Linked DNA regions of Homo sapiens. The protein of the gene in region 1 purifies or fractionates together with the protein of each later gene. This does not show direct contact. Each region holds a gene or a part of one and is shown on either strand. Other genes may lie near its edges. The genes, in order: SPINK1 and ST14.

Region 1 (2,617 bases):
GTAAAACAAAACTGGTGGGGAGATGTAGTAGAATAAAGTACTTAAGAGCTAAAGCTCAGGAACTCTGACTAGGTTTGAATTCTGAATTTAGGAATTCCTTAGCTGGGTGGCCTTGGCTAATTTTATTGCTTTGTGCCTCATTATCTTCACCTGAAGAAGAATATAATACTTAGTTCACAGGATAGTTAGGAGGTTTAAACAGAATAATATATAAAAAGCACTAGAACAATGTCTAGGACAATGACAATCATTTGATGATTATAAACTCTTACTGGAGTAGAATGCAAAGACTTCCAACACCCGACAATGCCTAGTGCCTTTAAGTGCCTAATAGAAGACCAGTGTGTGTGGACTACAGTGTACAAGGAAGAACGTGCCCCAAGATGTGGCCAACCTGAGAGATGCCAGCACCCGCAGTAATTGCAAACTTGAACATTATCTCACCCATCCATGTAAATCTCACAACAACACTATGAGATAGGTGGGAAATGGTAATATCATCACTGTTTTGCAGATGAACTGACTGAGTTTCAGAAGGGCCATAGGACTTACTAATGTCACACAGCTTAGAAATAGCAGAGGCATGACTTAAAACAAGGTTTTCTGTCTCCAGATAGTAGGTTATTTCTCTTACAACACACAGTATCATTCTCCCAATCACAGTTATTCCCCAGAGAAATAAAACCATTTCAGAGATTTTGCTATGAACTCAAGAATGGAGAATAATGGGAAATGATTCTGTTTAATTCCATTTTTAGGCCAAATGTTACAATGAACTTAATGGATGCACCAAGATATATGACCCTGTCTGTGGGACTGATGGAAATACTTATCCCAATGAATGCGTGTTATGTTTTGAAAATCGGTGAGTACAAACTTGAGTTTCTTTTAAACTATATATTTTAAGTTAGTTATCTTCAAGTGTACTGATAATATGAATCTCACCCCGAGAAAAGCAAACTATTTACTTTTTCCAAAAACAGTTATCTCTTTCTTATTCTCCCTTTTATATATTTAGCATTAAATATTATTTTTTAGAAGTCACTTGTATGATAAAAGCCTATATTTTTTACAGCAAAATAGTCGATAGCTTGGATTTTTATAAAGTACACACAAAATACCTTTAATTAAAAAAATTATTAGTGGTTGCAATGATTGTGTTTTTTAAAGCCCTCAGTTATGCAAATATAAATTGTATAGATTATATAACCAAAAATATATTTTTACTTATGGATATGAAAGCCAGTTTCAGTAAAGCTTCATTTCCTCAGTGACCATAAGTAGGTGATGTGATACAGAGAAATAGATTCAACACAGATTTCCTATCTCACTCAGCAACTGAAACCTTAGCATGTCTCAAGCATCATGCTAATATTCCCTGTCTTACTTGTGCTTATGACTAAGAAAACATCATGAGCATGTATAGGATGGCTTCTTATAACTTGGGGCAAATGCCAGAAGATGAGGTGTAAATAAAGTGCAACAGGAGTGAAGCAGAGATACATATTTTTTATTAAAAGGGGCCAAGAAAGGATCCATGAAAAGAATAGAATGCCAGCCGGGTGCAGTGGCTCACTCCTGTAATCCCAGCACTTTGGGAGGCCGATGCAGGTGGATCACCTGAGACCAGCCTGGCCAACATGGTGAAACCCCATGGTGGCGGGCGCCTATAATACCAGCTACTCAGGAGGCTGAGGCAGAAGAATCGCTTCAATCTGGGAGGCAGAGGTTGCAGTGAGCTGAGATTGTGCCACTGCACTCCAACCTGGGTGACAAGAGTGAGACTCCATCTTAAAAAAAAGGAAAAAAAAAGAATAGAATGCCATTTAAATAGAGTTCTGAATTTTGGCAATATCAAAAGAGCATGCCAGGTTAAATAAAGGTGTGGAATGAACAAAGCAAATAAAAGGGATTCCACGAGTGACTTTAGTTTTTCTGAGATTGACTTGATATTAAAGACTTTGACTCAGGCTCAAATGACTGTGTAAATTTCCATTATATTCTACTGCATAAATTCCCTTTTCTGTAATGCAAACCTTCTTCTTGGGCTGTTTTAAACCATTTTGGAAAATTCTCAGAGTTTAGCAAGTATTGTGGAAATAGGACCTCTGGATGAGAGGTCTAATATCCTGAAGTTTTAGACCCAAAACATTAGGTATTCTACTTTGTAATAAATCTGTTTCCATAATTAAGACTTGTAAAAAGAATTTGAAGCCACCTGTTAGTTTTCTCATGACCCATGTTCTTGACATTAAGCTCAAACATCATATTTCCATCCAATGGGAGGAGAAAGCAAGAGAACAACAGCTTTGAGACTTGGGAAATTTCCAAGTGCCGCTCAACATTTACAGTGAAACATTAGAAAAATATTAGTAGAGGGCTGGAACACCCTATCTGCTTAGCCTCTGAAACCTCCGAGTTTCTGCTTATTCTTTCTATTTGTTCAAAACTATGTAAATATGGGAGGCACATTTGTATGCTAGAAAACATGACCTCTCTTCCTATATTTCTCAGATAAGAAAATTTAGGTCTAGAGACAAAATGTTGCTTTCTCAAATACAACATATTTCCTAATGTATGACATTGCCTTTTTCACTGTTGATTAAAAGTCCCAAAC
Region 2 (3,822 bases), on another chromosome or scaffold:
CCAGCGAAGCTGGGGACCATGGAACTGGGTCCACTCCCCACAGGCTCTTGCTGTCCATCTCCATCACCCAAGCCCTGTGCATGGGTCTGAGCACACTCCATCTGTGCCTCAGGCCTCCCTCCTGCTGTGGGCCCATCTCTCCTCCCTGCAAAGGGCAGCTGAGGGCTTGGGTCACCTGCTCCTGGAGCTGCCTACCATGGAAAAGCGTGCAGCCAGCAGAAAGCGCATCCCCTTCTTCCGAGGTTGGATTCTCCTGGAAGGCCCATGCCCCTGTGCCTGCCTCTTCAGGGCAAGCCAGGCCCTAACACTCCTTCCTTCAGCCAACAGCCAGACGCCCAGAGAGGCCAGGAGCTAAGACACAAATAGCGCAGCCCGGCATTGTGCCCCTGTTCCTGGGATGCCCATGTGACCCTTCCAGGCCTCTCATCTGTCTGTGTGTCTGAGGCCATGACATGCTGAGCACCTACTATGTGCCAGGCACAGCGCAAAGTGTCTCAAGTACAGCATTGTATTTAATTCTCACAACTCTAAGGGTGGGAGCTGATACTGTCACTATCATTGGTGAAGAACCCAAGGCCTAGGAAGTTTGAATAACCTGCCCAGGGCCACCGGCAAGCCAGAGCTGGAGCATGAATCCAAAGCTCACGTTGGCCAATCCGAGGAGTTGCACAGTGCAGACTCACCGGAGACCACACCTGTGCTCAAGTCTGGCTCTGCCACTTAACAGCTGTGCCACCCCAAGCAAACGTCCCTACTTCTCTGAACCTTACTTTCTGTAGTGAGGATACAATCAAGCTGCCTAACTTGCTAGGGGGTTTTAGGAGAGGCACAGAGACAGCACTTGGCTGCAAGTGGGCACCGAATACAGTGAGTTTTTATTATTACTGTTATTGAGCCCCGTCCTGGGATATCTGCTCATTTGGTTTGGATGCTTGTCCCCTCCAAATCTCATGTTGAAATGGGATCCCCAGTGTTGGAGGTGGGGCGTGGTAGGAGGTGTTTTGGTCACGGTTCCCTCATGAATGTTTTGGTGCCCTTCCCATGGTGATGGGTGAGTTCTGAGTTCACACGAGGCTGGCTGCTTAAGAGTCTAGGACCTCCTCCTGCTCTCTCTTGCTCCTGTTCTCGCCATGTGATGTGCCTTCTCCCCCTTCACCTTCTGCCATGGATGGAAGCTCCCTGAGGCCCTCACCAGAAGCAGAGGCTGGCACCACGCTTCCTATACAGCCTGCAGAACCATGGGCCAAATAAACTCTTTTCTTTATAAATGACCCAGTCTCAGGTATTTCTTTAGAGCAACTCAAGAATGGACTAACACATGTGGCCACCCCTCCAGTGCCCTGCCTCGGTGCCAACCTATCCTGGCATTACTCCCAGATGCAAAGGGCCAGCAAGGAGGCTCCCTGCTGCCCACCCAGAGACCCACCTGAATCCTCTGTCATCGATGTAGCAGTGTGCGGCAGAGACCAGCCAGTTGGGAGAGATGAGGGAAGCACCGCAGATGTGGCCCTGGCCCAGAGCATGCAGGCTTACCTGCCAGGGCCACTCGCCCTCATCCGCATCCGTGCCCCCAACAACACGAGCCTGTCTCGTGAATGACCGCAGCCCACAGTCTGCAGAGGGAGCAGAGAACCAGAGGACAGCAAGTCAAGGTGGGGACATCAAACCACAAGGGGACATGCAGTGTGTGCCAGGAGACCCTGTGTGGGGAAGCCAGCTTTTGGCGTGCACAGCACTGCTGGCGTGGCCAGGGCGTGAGGGACCCCCAAAACTATCTTTGAGCTTCACAGACTCCCTTCCACCATGCCCCTCCTTCTCCCCGCTCCCAAATTCAAACCCTCATCTTCCCACCTCCCCCTCCCTCACAAATGCAGCGAGGGCCTCCGGAGGCTGGCTGGTCAGCTTCACTTTGATTTGGGTGTCATCTGCCTGACTTGACATCATTTGGGACATCACAGGGGAGGGGGCAGCATGGAGCAGGGAGAAGCGCCTTTGAATGCTGAAGGCCACAGCTCTGAGAGGGACGAATGAACCGCTGATGTGAGGTCACAGAACGCTGGAGCTGTGCTCAAATCTAACCTGTGGCCAGCCAACGCTTCTGAAACACAGAGGCTGCAGATTAAAGTATGGGCAGGCAGGGGTGACACCCTGCCTTGGGCTTGGGTGAGCTGGGCCGCTCTTCTCCAGGCTACTGCTCCACAGCTGTGTCTACACAGCAGGGGCCAGCAACGCACTGCAGCCACGACCCCGCCATGCTACAGAGGCGCTGAGATGCTGGCCGTACGGGCCTTTCTCCAAGACCAGAGCCAGCCCGTGGGGTGGTGCCTTCATGCCAACTGGCAAGGCTATCCTTTCCTCCAGGAGACACACCCTCTCACCCAAGCACAGAGCTGCTAAGTGAGGTGCTGGCGGGATTGCACCTCCAGGTGCACCCTCTGGTGGGCACTTCACACAGTGAACAACCTGCACAACCGTACTCGGATGCCCTGCTCACCGCAGTCCTTCTCATCTGAGCCGTCGCTACAGTCCTCCTTCCCGTCACACTCAGGGTTGCCCTTGCTCAAGCAGAGCCCATTGAGGCAGCGGTAGGTGTGTTTGGTACAAGTGACGACGTTCACTGTTCAAGGAGGAGGACAAGGGAGGGGCTCAATTCCTCTGCAGCATCCGACCAGAAGCCAGAAACCACCAATGGCGCCTCATGGCCCCTGCACATTACCCCCTCACCCAGGCCTGCCCCACCCACGCCCACTGGCCTCCCTGCCCTGCTACAGGTTCTCCACCTTCTGGAAAATTCTCCCCCAACCAGAGCCCTTTCTCATCACACTTAACACACAGGTGGTTTGTGTTCATTAAACTCGGGGCGTCCTGCATGTGCGTGTGCTCAGGGCAGCCTCCTCCAGGGGCGAGGCCCCCAACAGGAAGATGGGTGGGGCGGGCCTCACCCTTGGGGCAGGAGGCCTCGTCGGACCCGTCCCCACAGTCGTCCTTCCCATTGCACTGCTGGCTTTTCGAGAGGCACTTCCCATTGGAACACCTGAAGGTCTGGGCCGGACAACCTGGAGAGGCACCAGGACTCAGCCACCAGGAGCCACCGTCAGTCGCCCCGCCCACCTGCCCGCCCAGGCAGCCCCTCCCCAGCACTCACTGCACCCCTGCTCGTCGCTGTTGTCTCCGCAGTCGTTCACACTGTCGCAGACCCAGAAGAGGGGCTTGCAGAACTTGTTCTTGCACGTGAACTGGTGGCCGGCGTCGCAACCTGGAGTGGGGTAAGGGGAGGTCGGCCGTGAGGCCCTCATCACTCACTGCTTCCCCAGGATGCCCAGGCGATCAGAGCTACCTGGGGACCGCTTTCTGATCTACAGAGAGGCCCAAGGGGCCCTGCTCCACCAGCTACCAAGCTGACCTCAGCACTTCCGAGATACCCCACCACCTGCCCCACAGGCCAAGATCTCCATATGGCAGGGTGGGGAGTGGGGCCAGAGGTCTCTACACAGGGCCGAGAGCAAAAACTCCCACCACCTCCGGCCTTTCTGCCTCGGCAGTCAGCCAGCAGGGCCATGGGACGCGGGCAGGGTGGGGAAGGAGGGTGGGGAGACCGGGGCTCCCAGCCTGACTCACTGCAGTTGAGCTCATCGCTGTGGTCGGTGCAGTCGGCCCAGCCATCACAGCGCAGCTCCTTCCGGATACACCGCCCCGTGCGGCACGTGAACTGCCCCGGGCATGCTGCGGGCACAGGCAGGCCTGAGGCCCCCAGCACCCACCCACCTCCCTCCGCTGGCTCCCGGCTCCCTCCCTCGGGCCAACCTCCCAGCCACAAACACA

The links.
Region 2: the proteins of SPINK1 (region 1) and ST14 purify together in Homo sapiens (affinity purification with mass spectrometry; one large-scale study listed by BioGRID and IntAct). This does not show direct contact.

The regions. Positions count from the first base shown.
Region 1 is NC_000005.10:147,826,270-147,828,886, reverse strand, and holds part of SPINK1 (serine protease inhibitor Kazal-type 1 precursor), read left to right. Parts: intron 1-758; coding exon 759-865; intron 866-2,617. UniProt on the Homo sapiens protein: Serine protease inhibitor which exhibits anti-trypsin activity. In the pancreas, protects against trypsin-catalyzed premature activation of zymogens.
Region 2 is NC_000011.10:130,197,742-130,201,563, reverse strand, and holds part of ST14 (suppressor of tumorigenicity 14 protein), read right to left. Parts: intron 3,724-3,822; coding exon 3,619-3,723; intron 3,257-3,618; coding exon 3,146-3,256; intron 3,057-3,145; coding exon 2,943-3,056; intron 2,618-2,942; coding exon 2,495-2,617; intron 1,614-2,494; coding exon 1,427-1,613; intron 1-1,426. UniProt on the Homo sapiens protein: Exhibits trypsin-like activity as defined by cleavage of synthetic substrates with Arg or Lys as the P1 site. Involved in the terminal differentiation of keratinocytes through prostasin (PRSS8) activation and filaggrin (FLG) processing.